Regions from separate parts of the Homo sapiens genome. Here region 1 is linked to region 2. Evidence: fine-mapped expression QTL. A gene starts in region 2. The other region holds a variant in brackets. All regions are shown on one strand. Distances are between the middles of the regions. Region 1 overlaps NMT1 (N-myristoyltransferase 1). Region 2 holds the start of NMT1 (N-myristoyltransferase 1).

The links. PIP is the estimated chance that this variant, and not a neighbour inherited with it, causes the effect.
Region 1: its variant is fine-mapped to the expression of NMT1 in whole blood (TOPMed, PIP 0.99).

Annotation. Positions count from the first base shown.
Region 1 is chr17:45,101,041-45,112,606 of GRCh38, forward strand. NMT1 (N-myristoyltransferase 1) reads left to right here. Exons shown (of 12, transcript NM_021079.5): 9 at 1,911-2,081; 10 at 2,669-2,836; 11 at 3,819-3,956; 12 at 4,579-7,976. The coding sequence ends at 4,599. It overlaps PLCD3 (phospholipase C delta 3), which reads right to left. Exons shown (of 15, transcript NM_133373.5): 15 at 7,919-11,566. Among named protein-coding and RNA genes, the nearest start is that of MIR6784, 7.6 kb to the right of the region's middle. RefSeq lists enhancers at 2,486-2,986, 5,819-6,320, 10,890-11,566. The variant G/A (reference allele first, on the strand shown) is at 4,620.
Region 2 is chr17:45,056,117-45,067,682 of GRCh38, forward strand. It overlaps NMT1 (N-myristoyltransferase 1), which reads left to right and starts at 5,201. Exons shown (of 12, transcript NM_021079.5): 1 at 5,201-5,344. The coding sequence starts at 5,214. It also overlaps a transcript of DCAKD not described here. RefSeq lists enhancers at 3,981-4,972, 4,832-5,011, 4,973-5,964, 5,112-5,471, 5,325-5,619 and 1 more.

The sequences.
Region 1 (11,566 bases), 45 kb after region 2:
GGGCTTGGTGGTGGGCGCCTGTAGTCCCAGCTACTCGGGAGGCTGAGGCAGGAGAATGGCGTGAACCCGGGAGGCGGAGCTTGCAGTGAGCTGAGATAGCGCCATTGCACTCCAGCCTGGCCCACAGAGCGAGACTCCATCTCAAAAAAAACAACAACAACAAAAAAAGGATTTTGCCATGTTGCCCAGGCTCATCTGAATTCCTGGGCTCAAGTGATCCACCCACCTCAGCCTCTCAAAGTGCTGGGATTACAGGCATGAGCCACTGTGCCCATCCCAGTAGGGATTCTTAAAATCCCTTCTCAGGTGGGCGGTGGCTCACGCCTGTAATCCCAGCACTTTGGCAGGACAAGGCGGGTGGATCACGAGGTCAAGAGATTGAGACCATCCTGCCAACATGGTGAAACCCTGTCTCTACTAAAAACACAAAAATTAGCTGGGTGTGGTATGTGCCTGTAATCCCAGCTACTTGGGAAGCTGAGGCAGCAGAGTTGCTTGAACCTGGGAGGCAGAGGTTGCAGCGAGCCGAGATCGCACCATTGGACTCCAGCCTGGCGACAGAGCAAGACTCCGTCGCAAAAAAAAAAAAAAAAAAAAAAGGAAAGAAAGAAAAAATCTCTTCTCTTTCCTCGGAGTGCTTCTTCCTATTGGTCATCAGTGCACACAGTCACTGCGTTCCTGCTGACATGAGGCTGCCTGCCTGGACTCCTCAGCCTCTAAACAGGATTGATCACTCTGAAATCAGGCTAATCCACCTAGTGATTGGGGTCATTAGTGTCCCATCTTGAGAGACTGCTGCAGTACCGTTAGACACTGCCAAAAGCACAGGCTTGGGGGACTGTGGTATGTGTCTTCTCCCTTCTGTTCTCATGACAGATCTGCCTTGCGTTCTAGGCCGGTGGGCAGGCAGGCAGAGAGCATTCTTAGAGTGCTGCAGCAGCAGAAGAATGTCTCACCCATGTCTGGGTGGAAACCCCAGCATGGCTGTGTTTTCAGTCCAGGATTTGAGGTATCATTGTGGGAGCTGCCATGTAGAATGAGGTCATTGAGCGTTCCCCTAAAGAGACGAGGATTTAGCAAGGAATTTTAGAGGCTGGAGGTTCTAGAACTGAAGTTTTAAAAGCAATTCCTGCACTGGGAAGCATTGTGTCAGGCACTGACTGAGGCCTGTAAACTGTGACACCACCCTGTTTGCAGATTGCCCCAAGGCCACCTTTGTGTATCTGAGCCTCTGGGGATGTTCTACCAGCCCCGGTATTTGCTCCACAGGATCACATGGTTTCATTCCACTGAAGCATTTTTCTAGCAAAAGCAGCTGCCGGGTGGGACGCTGACTGGGGATAAAATCCTGGGAGTATGCTGCTTTTCTTCTGAATGTAACCCACAGCCGTGTCTCTCTGGGAAGTACTGGTGTAATAGTGTCTGGGTGGGCAGACCCTGGCTGGGCCCTGGGGTCTGTCCGCGAAGTGCTCTAAGTCTAGCAGAGAAAGAGCAGTGAGTGTGGGATGGCATCAGTCACAGTTCAGTGAGAAGCCTGTGAGGACTGTTGGGCTGCGTGGGCAGAAGGTACAGCTAGAAAGGCCAACCTGGCCCAAGGGTAGAAATTCTTGTCTTCTGGGGTGGGGAGTTTGAAACAAGGGTGGAGCATGAAGGGTTGTGTTTTCTTAGGGAGTCAGCCTGGGGCCATGTAGATGGTTGATTGATGTAGCAGTCTGAGTCTGCCTGGACTAGGAGGGAAAGGGCCAGAAGATACGGAAGAGGCAGGCCCTGTGCCTGAGGAGATATGCACGGGGGTGCAGGGAGCCGCCGAATGACCAGGGATTCTCTCTTGAGGGCCTGATCTGTCCTTGCCATGGATAGATCCAGGGTGATCAGCTCATCTCACTCCATCTCTTCTGTCTTGCCTCCAGACTCCCAAGACAGCTGGGCTGCGACCAATGGAAACAAAGGACATTCCAGTAGTGCACCAGCTCCTCACCAGGTACTTGAAGCAATTTCACCTTACGCCCGTCATGAGCCAGGAGGAGGTGGAGCACTGGTTCTACCCCCAGGAGAATATCATCGACACTTTCGTGGTGGAGGTGAGTCAGGGAGTGGTGTTCCAGGTCTCTAACACGTTCCCAGAGAGGCACCCCCCTGAGTGGCCGGGTTCCCAGGGCTCGAGTGTTGGCACCTTAGACTTCCTTGACCATCCGTGTTTGGTCCTCCCTAAAAACAGGGAGTTGGTGCTTGAATTTGCTGAAAAGATACCTCTGGATCTGGCTTGAGCCCTTCTCCCCCTCTGCCCCACTTTGATAACACAAAATAGAGAGAACTGAGCCCCGCTTAATCCTTCAGGAAAGCCTGCAATTCCCTGCCTGTCCCAGCTTAACCCAGTGCTGACCAGACATAGGAGACACAGTCTGGGGGGATGTGAGCTGCAAGAAGAGGTCCCTGGCGGTGCCCATGCTGGGAAAGAGGTCTGGCAGGTTCAGCCCACGATCACGGCTCTGTCCTCAAGTGCCCTGAGCCAATGTCCCTCCTCCTCCCCACATGTCCTGTTGCAGTTTCCAGCCATTTATCTAGAGGGGCAGAGCTGCCTGAAGGTGGAGTGAGAGAAACATTTTGTTCCCGGGCCGCAGTGCCACTGTGCATGCTTGACATTGCCTCTTTATTGCCTTCCCTTCAGAACGCAAACGGAGAGGTGACAGATTTCCTGAGCTTTTATACGCTGCCCTCCACCATCATGAACCATCCAACCCACAAGAGTCTCAAAGCTGCTTATTCTTTCTACAACGTTCACACCCAGACCCCTCTTCTAGACCTCATGAGCGACGCCCTTGTCCTCGCCAAAATGGTGAGGAGCAGACGGGGGGGTCTCTGGAGATGTGCAGGGAAGAGGCAGTGGAGCCATGGTGAGCACAGCTCCCGGGACGCAGCCTCCCATGGGCTGGAGGCTCTGAGCCCTCCTCATCTGTTCTGCTTAGGCAGGGTTCCCGCAGTTTTTAGGCAGAAACTCAAAACTTGGAGGGAACAAGGAGCATCCGAAGTGAAGGCATTGAACTCCTCCTGATTCATTTCAGTGAGTTTCGTTCTCACAGGAGGCGCCACCAAGGAGCCTGAATAGCCAGGCCTTCCCTGGGAGGACAGGGCTTCTCCTCACAGCTTTCCCAGCGTGGGAAAGGGGTGATTGCTGTCTGTCGTGGTGAGTCATTGGAGCATCCAACTGCCAGTAGCGGATGGCGAGCCCGTCTGTCAGTGCTTTGCTGTGGGTTCTGGTAACCTGTGCCCAGCCCAGCCCAGCCTGCTGTAGGCAATCTGGTCCCTGCCCTGTGAGAGCTTCTGCTCCAGTTGGTGAGGTTTAGGAAGCATCTTCACAGTCTCCAAGCAACACAGCAGGTGTCATACAACATGAGGTGCACTGAGGGCCTGAGAGTTGGGGCATCCATGGAGTAAGGAAGCAACACAAACCCCATGTAGCTGACCAGAGCCAGCTTCTCAGAGGAATGGGCTCAGGGTTTGGACTCCAGAGAGGACTGTGGAAATTACTAGAGTTTCAGGGAGGCATAACCAGGAATAGCAAGAGCCCCGGCCTGGACACTGAGTACATATGTGTACACTCTGAGGGACACTGGGCAGAGGCCAGGCTGGAGGGGGCGCTCAGAGTGTCCTGAGAACCACCCGGAGAGCGGGGATTAACGTGGAAGCAGCGGAGCTTCTGAGGGAACCTTGTTCTTGTGGCTGCCCACAGGACAGCTTTGAAATGGCAGCAAAGGGGTAGGAAGGAGGCTGTCCCCACCTGTCCTCACCTGTTCTTGTTTGTCCCTGCTGCTTTGCAGAAAGGGTTTGATGTGTTCAATGCACTGGATCTCATGGAGAACAAAACCTTCCTGGAGAAGCTCAAGTTTGGCATAGGGGACGGCAACCTGCAGTATTACCTTTACAATTGGAAATGCCCCAGCATGGGGGCAGAGAAGGTAGGCGACACATAGCCAGAGTCCAGGCTGCCCGGCCCAGGGTGTCCATGTCTCCAGCAGAAACCGGGCCATGGGTTGAGGAGACAGCCGCAGTCTGGGTCCTTGTTACCTCGAGTTGAACCTTTGAAAATGCCCTCCCTCTGCTGGCCAGACCAGCAGGTCAGCGTTCCCCTCTCAGCAACTGGTGTGAGGATGGCAGAGGGGACAGAGCCACACAGTAGCACGAAGATCATCTCCAATGAGGCCTTCCCACGTGAGGGAACCGTGGAAGTTGAGTTGCCCACGGTTTGCCAGGAGGGTAGGGCTGGGGGAACTCTGAGGAGGTTTCCTCTCCTGAGCTGCTGCCCTCTTCTGGCATGACACTTTCTTAGCCCTTCCTCCCCCAGTGCCACAGGGGACATAGGGGTGAGCTGGAGCGTGGGCCAGTTTTCCCTGGGAGGTCTGATGGACGTGTGAACCCTGGTGTGGAGGTTGAGTGTGGGGCCGGCTGGGTGTGAGTCTGCTCCCACAGCACAGGCGGTGGACCCGGGCCCAGCCACTCGGAACTTCAGGGATAGGGGGTGTGGGAGAGTCTTTGGGCCACTGTCAACTCAGCTCTGCCTCTCCCTGTTGGCTTTCCTAGGTTGGACTGGTGCTACAATAACCAGTCACCAGTGCGATTCT[G/A]GATAAAGCCACTGAAAATTCGAACCAGGAAATGGAACCCCACCACTGTTGGTCCAATTTTCACACACGTGAGAATCCCTGGCAAAGGGAGCAGAACTGAACCGGCTTTACCAAACCGCCAGCGAACTTGACAATTGTATTGCGATGGCGTGGGCTGCGTGACGTCACCTCCGGTCGTGTCTCTGGTCTCCGTGTTTTCCAGTTAATTACATCCTCATGCAGCCGTGATCAAGGGAATGTAACTGCTGAAAACTAGCTCGTGATTGGCATATAATGGAGTTAACGGGTGAATAATAAAAGTATATATATATATTATATATATATAAATATTTTAAATATCTTTCATGTTCCAAATGTACAAGGATGTTTGGTCTTTAATGAAAAGCTGAATCCAGATCATTCCTCAGAATGAGGACCCGAGGACAGTGGCAGACAGACGCGTTGGCACAGTTCATGGTTTCCTCCAGAGGAGACATTGGCTTATCATGGGGAAAAAGAGGATCTGGAGAACCTCATCCAGCTCCCCTTCTGAATCAGCTGGGATGACTGGCTTTGAGAAGGAAGGGAAGATGGAACAGGCTCAGATCTCATGGGATAGCACGTGGAGCTCTTGGCTGGGGCTGACCCTGGGCAGGGACTTTCCTGCAGGGCCAGACCTGCCTGCATTCTGAGACAAAGCAATGGACGGTCCGCAGAAGCAGACCTCATTGATTGAGTCCTTTCTTCCATCCCCTTGGCCTGCTCCCTGTAGGAAGTCATCCTGCCAACTGATTTAAAAGGGCTCTTTAGCCAGTTGTTGCCAACCTTATAGGGATGAGTCCCCTGTGAGATTTTGCTTTTCCACTGCCTGGGATGATGCAGTTTGAAGAGGCCCTTGGACCTCCTTGTAACATCAGGGACCTTTGGAGACCATTATCAGTGTAAGCCCTGCTTAGCTCATCTTAGAGCAAAGAGCCAGCACCCTGATGTCCCTGGGGTGGCTAGGCAGGAGTGGCGTGGGGCCAATACCCAGACCCCTTCAGCCACCAGCCCCTGGCCTGTGCCTTCCAACCCATTAGCCATTTCTTGTTGTGCCCCTTTCCAAGATACAGCCTGCAAGTGGTAGCAAGAAGTGATTAGAGGCAGATCTGGACTTGGCAACAGAAGTGGTTTCCCATCTCCATTGTCTGAGTCTGATTTTCGCTGATGCTGTTTTGTGGATTTTTGTGGTAGTGATGGTTGTCAGTGCTGCCAGTTTCCCAAAACGTAATCAAGCCTCTGGTCACATGGCTGTCGATGTAGGCATTCTGGAGTGGTGTTCAGCCAAGTGACCGGGCAAAATTGGGCTGTGAAATTGTACTTCCAGGCTTGGATGTAATTTTTGCTCTAGAGAGAAGCAAGTGGTGGGAAGGAGGTAGCATGACGTGTGGTGTGCGGGTTTCCTTGCTGCCGTCACCTCTCCGCTCATACAGGAATGAAGCCTTAGCCAGGAGGCCAGGCTCAGCCCTGTGCCACTCACCGAAGCCACTTTCTACAGGCCAGCAGGGGCTTGTTGCAGGCTGTGGGTTTTGGTGTGGTTTGTCAGAGGCTAATTCTGCAGAGTTTCCAAAACCAGAAGACATCGTATGCTTGGGATGGGGGCCGTGCCACCCGTGGGAATGCTGCCCGCTCTGCAGACTGCTGCTAGAGCCAGCAACTCCACTAAGGTGGATTTTCATCAGGGGCCTGCAGGGCCCTCCCTTTTCCCATTGTTCCTGCGCTGCAAATTGCAGGCCCCAGCAATCGTGACTGACGTTTGCTCCTTGACTCCAAGAAACTGAGACCAAAGAAGCTGCTGTTCTTAGCAAGATGCGCACTGCATTCCACAGGTGGGAGGAGTCGGAGAGGCAGGGGCTTGCTTTGCAGCCCCACAGACAACAGTTGCACAGTGCCTCAAGCCCCAGAGTGGCTCACCCTGTCCAGACCTTTGAGGATATCAAAGGACAAAGTGCCCAAGTCTTTCCTACCTTGGGGGAACCTGGAACTTGGAAAGGCTCCCTGTCCTAGTCTTGATCTGTTCTGGGCCAGGTCCCAGCTTGAGCTGCCTCTGAGATTTGGGCTGTGCGGATCTCTGGAGTGAGCTCTGTTTCGGTTGACCCAGGTCATGGAATGGAAACGGTGAGGCCCCAGTGGCTGTTCTGGAAGAAACAGATCTCCTGGCAAAGGCCCCAGCATCTCCCTCACTGAAACCAGGTGGCCGGCTCCTCGGACTCTGCTTTATGTTGCGGTGAGAACTCTGCCCAGGTGTGCAGGGTTTGGCTTGTGGGCTGCTTGCTGCTCATCTGATTTTTGTCCCAGTAGTCCCTGCGTTCTTCATTCAACCCCTTCTGGGACTTCAGCTCAGAGAGCACCATCCCGGGGGTCAGGGCCTCCCCACAGGAGCCCTGCAGTGTGGTAGCGCCATGGCTGTCTCAAACCAAGCAAAGGAAGGACCCTGAGGCCTTCACGCTAACCGTCCTCGAGCAACTGCTGTTGGAAGGCCTCCCTGGGCCTGGCCCCCACCCTCTGCCACCCAGTCCTCCCAGCTGCCATGTTTCAAAGACGACCTTTACCTCCTGCCTTTGGATTGACTCTGCATTTGACCACGGACTCCAGTCTGTGTGTAGGGAGAGAGCTGAGTAGGAGGCCTCCACTCCGGATCGAGGCCTGTATAGGGCTCGTTTCCCCACACATGCCTATTTCTGAAGAGGCTTCTGTCTTATTTGAAGGCCAGCCCACACCCAGCTACTTTAACACCAGGTTTATGGAAAATGTCAGGCCTTCCCCACAACTCCTGTCTAACTGCTGTCGCCCCCCTACTTGCTGGCTCTCAGAAGCCTAGGGGAGTCCCTGTGGTCCTGAATTCTTTCCCCAAAGACGACCAGCATTTAACCAACCTAAGGGCCCAAAGGCCTTGGACAACTGCATGGAGCTGCACTCTAGGAGAAGGAGGGGAACCAGATGTTAGATCAGGGGAGGGAGCAGGAGTGTCCCTCCCGTCAGTGCCTACCCACCTGTGAGGCAGCCTTCTGATGGCCTGGCCCACCTTCCCCAGAACCAGGGGAGGCCTGAGGCTTCAGTTTTACTCTGCTGCAAAATGAAGGCGGGCCTGCAAGCCGACTACACCTACGGAGGCTGTTGAGGACAATTTCATTCCATTAAATTAAAAAATACTGACTGGCTGGCAGGCAGGTGCCATGTCTGGGAACAGGGACGGGGGAGCTTCACCTTTTTGTCTTGGCTTTTCTTTGGGCTGTGGGGGGGCATCCATTTCCAGGGTCGGGGAGGAAATACCAAATGCATTGTTGTTCTGCTCAATACATCTCACTTGTTTCTAATAAAGAAAGCAGCTGAACAAAACCTTCTGTCCTGGTATTCCTGGTCAGCAGGTGGCAGTGGAAGAAATGGAGTGCTGGAGCCTAGGCTGGAGCCAGGACGACAGGGCTTGGACACAAAGTCCCTCAAGCCCACAGCACCAGGCCAGCTTCCAAAGGCCTTCCTTTAAGGCTGCCCTTCTTCCAGGGCAAACTTGGTGTTGTCAGACCCTTCCCACCCGCCAGAGACGAGCTGCTATTGACCCAGGTTCACTCCAAGTTAGAGCAGCAACTGGGCTCTCAGCCAGCACCTGAGCACCTCAGCACAGGAGCCGGCCCAGGCTTCCCTAGCTGGGCACAGAGCAGCCCCCTTGGTCCAGGTCAGCAGTGGCTCCTCTGGTGGAGGTGCAGGCCCCGTGCCTTCCCACTGTGCCCAGGTGCCACATCTCTCCTCCTGCACCACTGGCCGGGTGGTTCTTTGAGTCACTAGGGGTGCATTTTAACATGGCAAGTTGCTGGGCCCCAGTAGCTGTGTTTAAGACTTCCCATTCCCCCTCTTCTCATCCTCTGGAACTTACCCATTCCCTGACCCCCTGATCCTTTCAGGTCCATGACTGGTGCCTCCAAGCCCCTTTCCAGGGAAACTGAGAGGACACAGGACCTGCCTGACCCCTCTAAAGCCCCCCAACCCTCCTGTCCCAAACCAAGTCACTCAGGCTCCTATGGCCCATGCCTTTTTTCCTGCCCTTAGCTTTGGGCTGAGAGAACATAGCCCTATGTGTTGTTTCTACCCATGGGCCTCTGGGATAAAAAGCTGTGATTTCAGGCTGGGCATGGTGGCTCACGCCTGTAATCCCAGCACTTTGGGAGGGCGAGGCGGGTGGATCACGAGGTCAGGAGATCGAGACCATCCTGGCTAACACTATGAAACCCTGTCTCTACTAAAAACACAAAAAAATTAGCCGGGCATGGTGGTGGGCGCCTGTAGTCCCAGCTACTTGGGAAGCTGAGGCAGGAGAATGGTGTGAACCCGGGAGGCGGAGCTTGCAGTGAGCCAAGGTCGTGCCACTGCACTCTAGCCTAGGCGACAGAGCGAGACTCCATCTCAAAAAAACAAACAAAAAAAAAACCCTGTGATTTCTCCCTTGCTTCTGCTTCCCAGTTCACTTCCTTAAAGACTCTTGCCCTTTTGGCTGGGTGCAGTGGCTCACGCCTGTAATCCCAGCACTTTGGGAGGTCAAGGCGGGTGGATCACCTGAGGTCAGGAGTTCGAGACCAGCCTGGCCAACATGGTGAAACCCCGTCTCTACTAAAAATACAAAAATTAGCTGGGTATGGTGGCGGGCGCCTGTAATCCCAGCTACTCCGGAGGCTGAGGCAAGAGAATCGCTTGAACCCGGGAGGCAGAGGTTGCAGTGAGCCGAGATCACGCCATCGCACTCCATCCTGGGGGACGAGCAAGACTTTGTCTCAAAAGAAAAAAAAAAAAGACTCTTGCCCTTTCAAGGCAGCCTTCTCAGTATTGGGCCCTCATCCTAGCCTTCACCCCTTCCTCTTGGTACCAGATACGAAACCAGAGAAGCCAAGCAGGATGGGCACTCAGCCCTGGGTCTGGTGCTCACCTGACCCAGACCCCCCAGCCAGCCCCTGGCCAGACCTGGCTCTGCAGGGGCTGGGCAATGCTAATGGCTCTTCATTTGCTAAAACTGGACTTAGCCTCACTGTGCCTCCCATCCTGAGGCTGCAGTTTGGCAGCCTGACCCTCTGACAGCCCTGAGTGCCAGATGCCCGGGCTGCCTGGCCCGGCCCGCCTGGCTCGGCCCATTCCTTCTGGGCCCTTTTGATTCTGATTATCCTCTTTCAGACACACAAATTAACCAGAGCCAAACGCCACTCCCAGCATGAAGGAGCGGGGGACACTGCCACTTTCTGCATTAGTTCTTGGAGTTGCTAGAAGGTGGAGTCTGCCCCAGCCCTGTGTTTTGGTTTCTGTGGGGCTTGGGGCCAGTTCAAGGCCTATCCCAGCCCAGTTCCAGGCCACCCTCTGGGGACTAATGTCAAGTTCTGCCCTTGTCCAGTGCCGGCACTGTTGGCTGGCAGAACCTAAAACACCAGGCCTCCACATTTCACCCTGCTGGCAGGGGCGGGTGCAGGATTTTCTCCAGATTCTGTCGCCTAGTGTCCAGTGCGCTCTCCTGGCATTTCTATAGAGGCGGCCCAAGCAGCGTTTCCAGCCTTTGTGTAAAAGGCTGGCTGGCTGGAGGAAGGGAAGCCCGTGTCCTTGGGATTTGCCCTACTGAGCAGACAGGGGCCTTGAGCCCAGCCAAGCCTGGAGAGTGGCAGTCTGAGGGTCCCTCAGACTCCTGTCTCCTCCTCATTCAAGGCCCCTCTGTGTATGTGTGAGTGTGTGTGTGTGTGTGTGTGTGTGTGTGTTGTGGGGAGGCGCTGACCTGCTGAATTGGCATCCTCAGACAGTCTTGTGATACTCGCAGCAGCTTTAAGCCAGGAGCAGGGATCGGGCTATTTAGAGCTGTGGCATCTCCTGCTGCCACCCCCTGGCTGTCTTAGCCAAGTCCATGCCCTGTTGAGGGGAGAGGCCCAAGAAACTCATCCAGCCCTGTCCCTCCTCATGGGCCTGTGGGGGTGGCAGCATAGAGGTGCTCAGGGAGTGGCGGTGGTGAAATCAACGTGCTTCTTTATTTTTTAAACTAGATAGGCTCATTCTACTGTCTTCTCCAGGGCTCTTCTATGAAACAGTTACAAACCTACGGCCAGGCCAGGCAGTGGCTCACACCTGTAATCCCAGCACTTTGGAATGCTGGGGCAGGAGGATCACTTGAGGTCAGGAGCTCGAGACCAGCCTGGGCAACATAGGGAGACCCCCGCCCCCCCCGCCATCTCTACATAAAATTTAAACATTAGCCAGGTTTGGTGGCCTGTGCCTGTAGTCCCAGCTACTCAGGAGGCTGAGATGGGAGGATCGCTTGAGCCTGGGAGTTCAAAGCTGCAGTGAGCCATGATTGCAACATTGCACTCCAGCCTGGGCGACGGAGCGAGACCCTGTCTCAAAAAATAAAAACCAAAACCTACTGCCAGTTTCCCCAGGGCTTCATGCCTCAGCGCTCCCTTCTTGCTTTGAGAAGGGAAGGGGAGCTCAGGTTCCGGAGCTGGAGGGAGGAGTCCAGGAAGGCCTGGGGTAAAGGAGGGCTTAGGGGCTAAGCTCGGGGTCGGGGCCAAGTGGAGTGACTGCGCTCCTCTGGGGGAAGGAGGCTGGGATGGCCCACGGGAGGACAGAGGGGAACTGAGGGCCCACAAGTGTCCTGCTCCCCAAGTCTCCTGGCAGCAACAGGCTTGCTCCTCATAAGTCACAATGAGGGGTGGGCTGAGGACAAGAGGAGCTGGGGCCATCTCAGGGCCCCAGGGTTGGAGCTCACTGAAGTCACATGAACACCTTTCTGTTCTTCAGGAGGGGCCCAGGCAGCCCTCAGCACCCAGGTGAGACCAGCGCCTGGTGAATGGGCTGAGTGGGCCAAGTGGGTGGGCTGGGGGGCTGGTACTCCCACCACCTGACTCCAGAGGAGGAGAGGGCTCTGCAGGGGATGTGGACTGGCACTCGCAGAACCCCAAGGCGAGTGA
Region 2 (11,566 bases):
TGCACTCCAGCCTAGGCAAAAAGAGCAAAGCTCCGTCTCAAAAAAAAAAAAAAAAGAAGGTTATCTCTGACATGCTGGAAGTACAGCAAAGGCCTTGATCTGTGATGGACATCATGAAGAAAACTTTTCTTTGGTTATCATACCAGTAATGCTGACTTCCTGGGAAGGGAAATACTAATTAAGTGGGTATTAATTCTGTCCTAGACACTTTTAGGGCTCTCTATGTAAGTCTTATTTTACAGATAATGACATCAAAGCTCAGAGGTTAAGTGACTTGCCTAAGGTCATTCATTAAGTCAGAGGCAGAGCCAGGATTTAGAACCCAGGGAGTCACACTCTGCCTGCACTCTTTTTTATATATATTTTTTTTTTCCCAAGACAGAGTCTTGCTCTGTCGCCCAGGTTGGAGTGCAATGGTGCGATCTCGGCTCACTGCAACCTCCACTTCCCGGGTTCAAGCAATTCTCCCTGCCTCAGCCTCCCGAGTAGCTGGGATTACAGGCGTCCACCACTGTGCCCAGCTAAATTTTGTATTTTTAGTAGAGACGGGGTTTCACCACGTTGGCCAGGCTGGTCTCAAACTCCTGACCTCAGGTGATCCGCCTGCCTTGGCCTCCCAAAGTGCTGGGATTATAGGCATGAGCCACCGTGCCTGGCCCTTTTTCCTTTGAGACAGAGCCTCGCTCTGTCACCCAGGCTGGAGTGCGGTGGCGTGATCTCCGCTCACTGCAAGCTCCGCCTCCCTGGTTTACACCGTTCTCCTGCCTCAGCCTACCAAGTAGCTGGGACTACAGACGCCCGCCACCACGTCTGGCTAATTTTTTGTATTTTCAGTAGAGACAGGGTTTCACCATGTTAGCCAGGATGGTCTCGATCCCCTGACCTCATGATCTGCCCGCCTTGGCCTCCCAAAGTACTGGGATTACAGGCGTGAGCCACTGCGCCTGGCCCTTTTTTCCTATTTATATAGAGACGGGGCCTTGCCATGTTGTCCGGGCTGGAGTGCAGTGGCATGATCCTGGGTTCCAGCGATCCTCCCACCTCAGCCTCCCAAGTAGCTAGAACCATAGGTGCATGCCACAATGCCACGCTAATTTTTGTATTTTTTTTAGAGACAGGGTCCTCTATGTTGCCCAGGCAGGTCTCACACTCCTGGGCTCAAGTGATCCACCCATCTCAGCCTCCCAAAGTGTTGGGATTACAGGCATGAGCCACCTCACCCAGCTATATTTCTGCATAACTCCATAAGGCAGAACCGGGCCAGCTTTTCACAAACCAAAATTGTTTCAAAGTGGAAAGCTCTCGGCTGGGCGCAGTGGCTCATGCCTGTAATCCCAGCACTTTGGGAGGCCGAGGCAGGCGGATTGCCTGAGCTCAGGAGTTGGAGACCAGCCTGGGCAACATGGTGAAACCCCGTCTCTACTAAAATACAAAAAATTAGCTGGGCATGGCGGTGTGTGCCTGTAATCCCAGCTACTCGGGAGGTTGAGGCAGGAGAACTGCTGGAATCCAGGAGGCAGAGGTTGCAGTGAGCCGAGATAGTGCCACTGCACTCCAGCCTGGGCAACAGAGTGCGACTCCATCTCAAAAAAAAAAAAAAAACAGTAATTCAGGCCAGGTGCAGTGTCTCACACCTGTAATCTCAGCACTTTGGGAGAGCGAGGTGGGCGGATCACCTGAGGTCAGGAGTTCGAGACCAGCCTGGCCAACGTGGTGAAACCCTGTCTCTACTAAAAGTACAAAAATTAGCTGGGCGTGGTGGCAGGCACCTGTAATCCCAGCTACTTGGGAGGCTGAGGCAGGAGAATCGCTTAAACCTGGAAGGCAGAGGTTGCAATGAGTCGAGATTGTGCCACTGCACTCCAACTTGGGTGACAGTGAGATTCCGTCTCAAAAAAAAAAAAAAAAAAAAAAAAGCCTGGGCGTGGTGGCTCACACCTGTAATTCCAGCACTTTGGGAGGCCAAGGCAGGTGGATTACCTGAGGTCAGGAGTTTAAGACCAGCCTGGCCAACGTGGTGAAACCCCATCTCTACTGTAAGTACAAAAATTAGCCAGGCATGGGGGTGCGCACCTGTAGTCCCAGCTACCGGGGAGGCTGAGGTGGCAGGATCACTTGAATCCAGGAGGCAGAGGTTGCAGCAAGCCGAGATTGCGCCATTGCACTCCAGCGTAGGCGACAGAGCGAGACAGTCTCAAAAATAATAATAAATAAAAATAACACACAAAATATCTTTTTATCTTTTATTTTATTATTGTAATCCCAAAGTGCTGGGATTACAGGCATGAGCCACCACGCCCAGCCTACTTTTTATTTTTTTTGAGACAGAGTCCCACTTTGTCACCCAGGCTGGAGTGCAGTGGCAGAATCTTGGCTTACTGCAACCTCCGCCTCCCAGGTTCAAAAGATTCTCGCGTCTCAGCCTCCCAAGTAGCTGGGATTATAGGCGCCCACCACTAAGCCCAGCTAATTTTTTTGTATTTTCAGTAGAGACGGGGTTTCGCCACGTTGGCCAGGCTGGTCTCGAACTCCTGACCTCAGGTGATCCACCCACCTCGGCTTCCCAAAGTGCTGGGATTACTGGCATAAGCCCCAGCGCCTGGCCTGGCTTTATTATTCTTCTTCTTACCTCTGACCCCCCCCTTCCCTGCAGCTGCAAATAGGGCAATCGCGTTGAACAGCAGTCTTAGACCCCGGAGAGTTGAGTGTGGTGACAGCTCTCAGACTGAGTGGGCATCTTTGACTGCCTTCCAAAGTCAAATATAAATGACTGAGGATTATCTGCTGCTTTGGATCATAATTACTTATGCTTATGCCATTGATATAAAAACAGAGTTGAGTTGGCCGGGCGCGGTGGCTCACGCCTGTAATCCCAGCACTTTGGGAGGCCGAGGCGGGCAGATCACGAGGTCAGGAGATCGAGCCCACCCTGGCTAACACGGTGAAACCCCGTCTCTACTAAAAATACAAAAAATTAGCCGGGTGAGGTGGCGGGCACCTGTAGTCCCAGCTACTTGGGAGGCTGAGGTAGGAGAATGGCGTGAACCCGGGAGGCAGAGCTTGCAGTGAGCCAAAATCGCGCCACTGCAATCCAGCCTGGGCGACAGAGCAAGAGAGCGAGACTCCGTCTCAGAAAAAAAAAAGAAAGAAAGAGTTGACTATATTTAGTTCTGTGTTTTATTTGTGTTTTCTTTCCCTGAGTCAGATGGGAACTGTTTCTTCCCGCCCTGCCATTCTTCCCATGTTGAGATCTTTCCCAAAGGCAAAGATCATTTCCCTTTTTGGCCATGGAGCACTCTGATGGTAAGAATTAGTCCTCTCATCACCCACCACACTCAACCCGAATAGGAAATTTCCAAGAATGGGAACCATGTCTTTGGGCACTTAGGCGAGATTACTCAATCAAAAGAGTGAGACTCAGGGACTGAAACATTCAATCAAGGTTAAAAACAGATTAAAATGTGGCAGTTACCTTTTTTCCCCTGATATAGAATACGCACTGGAGTCACAGTTACCTTTTAGTAACTGATTTCCTTGAGTGAATAGTGTATCAGAAAATGGGACTTTTATGGTGGCAAAGAATTCAGAGGGCCTGGGGCACACAGATCTGGATTTGTATACCGATTTGCCACTTAACCAGCTATGTGACTGTGCAATTTACCAACCTCTCAGGGCCACATTTTTTCATCTGTCAAAAAGGTCAATATGGCCAGGTACGGTGGCTCACACCTCTAATCCCAGCACTTTGGGAGGCCGAAATGGGCAGATCACGAGGTCAGGAGTTCGAGACCAGCCTGACCAACATGGTGAAACCCCGTCTCTACTAAAAATACAAAAATTAGCCAGGTGTGGTGGCGTGCGCCTTTAATCCCAGCTACTCAGGAGGCCGAGGCAAGAGAATCGCTTGAACCCAGGAGGCGAAGGTTGCAGTGAGCCGAGATCGCACCACTGCACTCCAGCCTGGGAGTCAGAGAGAGACTCCGTCTCAAAACAAAACAAAACAAAACAAAGGTTGAATAATAATAATAGGACCTATATTGTAGACTTGTTGAGAGGATTAAATGAGATAATGTACGAAATGCCTTACTACAGAGTCTGGCACTTATTAAAGAAAGAGTTGATGTGGGCTGGGTGCCGTGGCTCACGTCTGTAATCCCAGCACTTTGCGGGGTTGGGGTAGGAAGATCCTTAGAGGCCAGGAGTTCGAGACCAGCCTGGGCAACAAGGCGAGACCCTCGTCTCTACAAAAAATATATAAATTATCCGGGTGTGGTGGCTCATGCCTATAGTCCTAGGTACTTGGGAGGCTGAGGTGGGAGGATACCTTGATTGCAGTGAGCTGTGATCTTGAGCCATTGCGCTCCAGCCTGGGCGACAGAAGGCGGCCGTATTTAAAAAAGAAAAAAGAAAGAAAGAAAGAAAAGAAAAGAAAAAAAGGGTCGTTGTGGAAAATTCTTGTGGGGAATTAAAGGGACCACGTGTGCGCGAAAGAGCTTGGCGAAGATAAGTACCTGGAGGCCAAGATGAGGCGGCGAGCCCTGCCTCCCTAGCAGTGTGGTCTCCTGGCTTAGGGTCAGTGCTTCGCACAAAAAAATCCACTGCCTCTCATGAGACCTTGAACTGCCAATGACCGCAGGTTGCCCAGACTCCCGAGTGAGGAAGGCGGCCAGGAGTCAACTAGGCTTCTTGCGGAAAAGCCCACTCTAAGAAGGCCTGGGGCATTCCGGCTCCAGGCAGGTAGCACCCGCGGGCCTCAGGCCCTTTCACTTACCCGGGAAACGTAACGGTCCTTAACGGCAGCCAATAACGGCTCCCAGCGGCCCAGGCACTGGCAAGGGCAGGCTGAAATCAAACCTCGGATTTTGGAACCTCCACGCCTGAAACCCTAAACCAGCATCGAACTACAACTCCCATCATGCCAGGCGGCCGCCCGGTTCCCAAGGGTCGGTCCCACCAACCTTGCGCCCCTTCTTTCCTCAAAGCGTGGCCGAATGCCTAGGCTTCCGGGTATCAGTGGCCCCGCCTCTTAATCCGACCGGAGCCGTCCCTCGTGATTCCTGGGTATTGTAGTCAGTTTCCTGGGAAAGAGTCGCTCCTAGTGGCAGCTCGCTTCGCCAGAAAAACTACAAAACCCAGAATGCAGCGCAAATTCCCCTTGTCCAATAGGAACCCCCCATGTAGTGGGGCGCGGAGCCCTGCTCTCGCAACTCAAGATGGCGGACGAGAGTGAGACAGCAGTGAAGCCGCCGGCACCTCCGCTGCCGCAGATGATGGAAGGGAACGGGAACGGCCATGAGCACTGCAGCGATTGCGAGAATGAGGAGGACAACAGCTACAACCGGGGGTAACGAAATCCTCGGAGTCCAATTCCCGTCCAGCCTCCCACAACCTGGGTCTCTGGGGTGCGGGGAAGTCACCGGGAGCTTAGTCTAGCCCCACCCTCATGTTCTTATTGGCTAAGTCACTAGGATTCTGCCTGGCGATTGGTTATTGCCTTTGTCATTTACCAAGGGTGGGTGCTCTGGATATTAAGGGCCGGAGACGTTCAGTACTTTTATTATATAAAAGTTCTATGCAGTGTTCCACTCGTGTGCTTCAGGCCATTCCTGGGAAAAGAGCATGTTGGACGATGGTTTTCGATGGTACAACACAGGACAGTCTAGTAACAGTACAGTTCAAAGGGAACGTTACTTATAGACGTGTTGTTTGAACAACGTGACTAGCAATAAACGAATCATAAAACATTTCGCAGCAGTTCACCCTCAGTGAGGAAACTCATCAGACTATACAAACTGTATGTATAATTATATTGTAAAATATCACTACCAGAGAATCCCAAAATATAAACTCACCTTATAAACCTATGTAATTAACGGTATGGTAATGCTTTGATTTACATAGTTTCCATTGCTCCAAATAATCCATAAGTATCCTGAACGATATATTAATATAATTAAGTCTTCGAACATCTTTGCCTTGTTACCTTTGCAGAGCAGCCCCAGGCTTCAAGAAATGAGCGATGTTGTTTCTTGGAGAGTATTTGGAATCCTCGGGCTCCATACTGCCTATCCTGTACTTTAGGGTCTTGCCATTAGTTACTATTTGTTCCTAGGGATGAAGAAACACACCAGGCATTTGAATGTTGAATTCTTTTCCCAAATTAGTTTTTACTTCTGTAAGCCACAGCTTATTCATCTTTCTTCACATGGTTAGTGCCTGGCACTGGCACTCACGCTGTCTCTCCCCATCTTCCTGTCTATATTTGTAGATATATTTTTAAACTGAAAGTCGTGAGAGATTTTTGGGTGTATAACTTGCTGAGTCTGAGGTAGTCTGATTTTCGTAGCCAGCTTGTTATTCGCAGTATTGGTGGCAGTGCAGATATAAAGGTATAAAGACCAAGGACTGCGTAGAAGAGATGGTCCCACAAGATTATAGTACATATTTTTATTGTATCCTTTCTATGTTTAGGTATGCTTAGATACACAAATACTTACCATTGTATTATAGTTGCCTGCAGTACTCAGTAACATGCAGCAGCCTATTGCTCCTAGGCTACAAACCTGTATAGCATGTTACTGTAATGTACACCATATAGCCTAGGCATTTAGTAGGCTATACCATCTAGATTTGTGTAAGTACACCCTATAATGTTGGCAAGGCAAAAATCACCTAACCATGCATTTCCCAGCACATATGCCTGACGTTCAGTGAAGCATGACTGTATTTAAGTGGTTTATAATCTGCTTGTGGTAAATCTTAGGTTAAAAGATCTAGCTTTTATGTTCTTCAGCCGGCATTAAAAATCACAGGAAGGGCCGGGCATGGTGGCTCATGCCTGTAATCCCAGTACTTTGGGAGGCAGATCACGAGGTCAGGAGATCGAGACCATCCTGGCTAACACTGTGAAATCCCATCTCTACTAAAAATACAAAAAATTTAGCCGGGCGTGGTGGCGGGCGCCTGTAGTCCCAACTACTCGGGAGGCTAAGGCAGGAGAATGGCGTGAACCCAGGAGGCAGAGCTTGCAGTGAGCTGAGATCACGCCACTGCACTCCAGCCTGGGCGACAGAGCGAGACTCCGACTCAAAAAAAAAAAAAAAAAAAAAAAATCACAGGAAGAAAGTAGAGGAATAGGAAGCTTGCCAAATTTAGTTTTTATAAGACTGTTCTGTTGCTGTAACTCACAACAGATCTAATGTAATAAAAGTCTTCTTTTGAAGTTTGATATTCCTAAAAATGGAAGAGCTGAGAAAGAGGAAGTAGGAACAGGAAGAAGGGAAAGTGAAGCTCTCCTGAGTAGAGATCTGAATCACAGATGAGAGTTGGTGAATGTGAAAGTCATTCCAGAAGTGAAAGTGTGGCATTTTCTTTGCTCTTTTTGTAGTTGCTTTTATTTTTATCTTCTTAACTGTTGTCCTGACCAGTGTCCTTAGGTTTGTGCCCTATAATCTGTGAATCACTTTTCAAAACTGTGTGCCAGAAAGTTATTTTATTGGCCTGGCGTGGTAGCTCACACCTGTAATCCCAGCACTTTGGGAGGCCGAGGCAGGTGGATCACTTGAGGTCAGCAGTTCGAGAACAGCATGGCCAACATGGTGAAACCCCGTCTCCACTAAAAATACAAAATTTAGCTGGGCATGGTGGCGTACGCCTATAGTCCCAGCTACTCCGGAGACTGAGGCAGGAGAATCACTTGAACCTGGGAGGTGGAGGCTGCAGTGAGTTGAGATTGCACCACTGCACTCCAGCCTGGGCAATAGAGCAAAGCCCTGTCTCAGAAAAAAAAGTGGCACACAGTGGCTCATGCCTGTAATCCCATCACTCTGGGAGGCCGAGGCGGGTGGATCACGAGGTCAAGAGATTGAGACCATCCTGGCTAACATGGTGAAACCCTGTCTCTATTAAAAATAGAAAAATTAGCTGGGCATGGTGGTGCATACCTGTAGTCCCAGCTACTCGGGAGGCTGAGGCAGGAGAATCACTCGAACCCGGGAGGCGGAGGTTGCAGTGAGCTGAGATTGCGCCACTGCACACCAGCTTGGCAACGGAGCGAGACTCCATCTCAAAAAAATAAATAAATAAAATTATTTTATTTGTAGTAGAAGTAAGTGATAACCTTAAAAACTTTGACAGTTTGCAGTGGTGTCTCTGTGCATGGTTATGGTCTGGGTGAAAAAATTATGTTTATTAGCGTCCCAAATCTAAAGATCTGTGAAAATGAGTTTGGAGGTAGTAGGTGAAAAACCAAGGGCCTAGTCTGGAGGAGAGAGTCTAATTCTGGCACTAAGAATCTGGGGTAGAGTCAACATTTTTCCATGAACTTTGAGAGGAAATGGTTTTGGGGAGAAGCAGCAATGTGGGAAAATGCAGCACGGCACAGTAGAAAAGCATGGACTTTGGAATAATTTAAATCTGGTCTGAGGCCAGGCGCGGTGGCGCACATCTGTAATCCCAGCACTTTGGGAGGCTGAGGTGGGCAGATCGCTTGTGGTCAGGAGTTTGAGACCAGCCTGGCCAGCATAGTGAAACCTCATCTCTACTAAAAATACAAAAATTAGCTGGGCATGATGGCAGGCGCCTGTAATCCTAGCTACTTAGGAGGCTGAGGCAGGAGAATCACTTGAAAACAGGAGGCAGAGGTTGCACTGAGCTGAGATCTCTCCAGTGCACTCCAGCCTGGGCGACAGAGCAAGCCTCTGATCTCAAAATCTCATCTCAAAGCTTGGCTCTGACACTTAACAGTCCTGTGACCTTGGGAAAGGTACTTAACTCAGAGTTGTAGGGATTAATGAGATAACATCTGGAATGCACTCCTTTTCCTCCCTCCTCCTCTTTCTTCAGATCGTCCCTAACCTCCCAGCTTGCCCCTCTGCTCTTATCACATACTGTATTGTAGCTTTTATCGTAACAATAGTTATAATAACAATAAATATAACTACATGTTTGGTAATTTTTCTTAATGTGTCTGGTACCTGTCTCATCTGACAGTAAGGAGCATGTAAACAGGATTGTGTCTTCGAAATGCCTAGCACTTAGTGGGCATTAATGAGTATTTGCTGTATGAATGAATGGCAGATATTAAAGTGCCTAGCCCAGTATTAGTGGAGTTTCATCTCCCCTCACCAAGTGAGAGGATGTCAGATTTTTCTTACATACACATTTTCTCTCCCCAAATAATTCTCATTGTAAGCCTCACTACAGTTTTTATGAAATACCTACAGAGGCAGGGCATGGTGGCTCACACCTGTAATCCCAGCACTTTGGGAGGCTAAGGCGGGCGGGATCATGAGGTCAGGAGATCGAGACCATCCTGGCTAACACAGTGAAACCCCATCTCTAATAAAAATACAAAAAATTAGCCAGGTGTGGTGGCGCATGCCTGTAGTCCCAGCTACTCGGGAGGCTGAGGCAGGAGAATGGTGTGACCCTGTGAGGCGGAGCTTGCAGTGAGCCGAGATTGCGCCATTGCACTCCAGCCTGGGCGACAGAGCCAGACTCTGTCTCAAAAAAAAAAAAAAAAAAAAAGAAATACCTACAGAAACCAGGAAGCTCCAATTTGCTGTGGAGCTTTCCACTGTTGTGTGCTTTCCACTGTGTTTTGCTTCTTGAAATGTTTTTTGTCTTAATATTATTTAAAATGTTCTCAAAAATCATGTAAAAATTGACAGAGAAGTTTTCCTTTCAATGCTAGAGAGTCTAAAATGTGTAATATATAATAAAGGTTAATGATAGTTCGAGCTAACCCTTATTCTCCTGGGCCTTTTTTTTTTTTTAAAGAGACTGTGTCTCGCTATGTTGCTCAGACTAGTCTCAAACTCCTGGGTTCAAGTGATCCTCCTGCCTTAGCCTCCCAAAGTGCTGGGATTGTAAGCATGAGCCACCACACCCAGCCTCCTGCCCCTTTTTTTCAGGAACTAAAGTCATAGTACTCTATGCTAATAAAATGAGCTAAATTCATGTACTGGATTCTGTTGCCCGGGCTGGAGTGCTGTGGCGCGATCTTGGCTCACTGCAACCTCTGCCTCCCGGGTTCAAGAAATTCTCCTGCCTCAGCCTCCTGAGTAGCTGGGACTACAGGAGCACACTGCCACACCCGGCTAATTTTTCATATTTTAGTAGAGACGGGGTTTCACCGTTGTTGCCCAGGCTGGTCTTGAACTCCTGAGCTCAGGCAATCCACCTGCCTTGGCCTCCGAAAGTGCTAGGATTACAGGTGTGAGCCACCACGCCCGGCCAGTTGTATTAGTTACTTATGTCTCTTTGTATATGAATTTAGTTCTTGACTTTTCTGGTCTTGTGTTTCCTCCGTAATTAAATCAGCATAAACATTTGGTGAATATAAAACTTCATGTGGTTGTGTGTAGTGGCTCATGCCTGTAATCTCAGCACTTTGGGAGGCTGAGGCAGAAAAATCACTTGAGCTCAGGAGTTCGAGACCAGCCTGGGCAACATGGTGAGACCCCATCTCTATAAATAAAAACAAAAAAACCCAAACCCTTCATGTATACATATAGGTATACATGCATACATATGCAGTGTGTATGGGTGCGTCTCTTCAGTTTTTCTATTTAAAAATTTTTTAATTTAATTTTAAAATTATTGTTATTACTTTGGAAACAGGGCCTCGCTCTGTCGTCCAGGCTATAGTACAGTGGTGTGATCATGGCTTACTGCAGCCTTTGACCTGGGCTCAAGCGATCCTCCCACCTCAGCCTCCCAAGTAGCTAGGATTGTAGACATGCACCATCATCCCTGGCTAATTTTCTTTTTAAAAAGTTTCTGTAGAGATGGGGTCTCACTATTTAGCCCAGGCTGGTCTCAAACTGCTGGCCTCAAGTGATGCTGCCACCTTGGCCTCCCAAACTGCTGGGATTGTGGGCATAAGCTCCTGCATCCAGCTGGTTTTGTTTGTTTTTTTACTGCACTCAATTTCCCCCAGTTACGTGCCTAGCGTAATTATCCTGAACAATTGAGAGGAGAGTCAGATAAGATAACCTTTATGCAGCATCCCCCTGTAGTTCGTGATTCATCTATATGGTTTAATTTGATTTTTTTTTTTTTTTAATGAGAGTCTTTCCAAGAAGTATTGCCAAAGAATAAATCTCATCAGTTGGCAGATTTTAATTTGGGGGTAATAAGTGAAGATTGTCTGAGTGTTTTGGAACAAAAAAGAACTTTTAGACTATTGTGTTCTAGGAATCTTTCGGAATTTATTTTGCAGTGTCTTCAGTGTCATTGAGATCCTGGTAAGCACGGGTCAAGAGCCCTCTGACAAGAGGTGTCTCATCTCCATCCTGCTCTCTTACTCCCTGGGACAGGTTAACATGGATTCTTTATAAGTTCTCCTCATTTCCTGGTTGTGAGATACTATCCCTTATGAAAACTTAGGAGGAGAGAAAAGTCTTTCTGAAAATAAATTCCATAAAGCTAGCCTTACTTGTTTTTGTTTTTTTCTTCAGCTTCTCCAAGAGTCGTTCTTTCCCTATTTATTTGATGGCTTATAGCTGCAGCTAGCTCTTGGAAATAAGAAATCTTTTTAGTTCCTTTTTAATTTCTCCCTTCA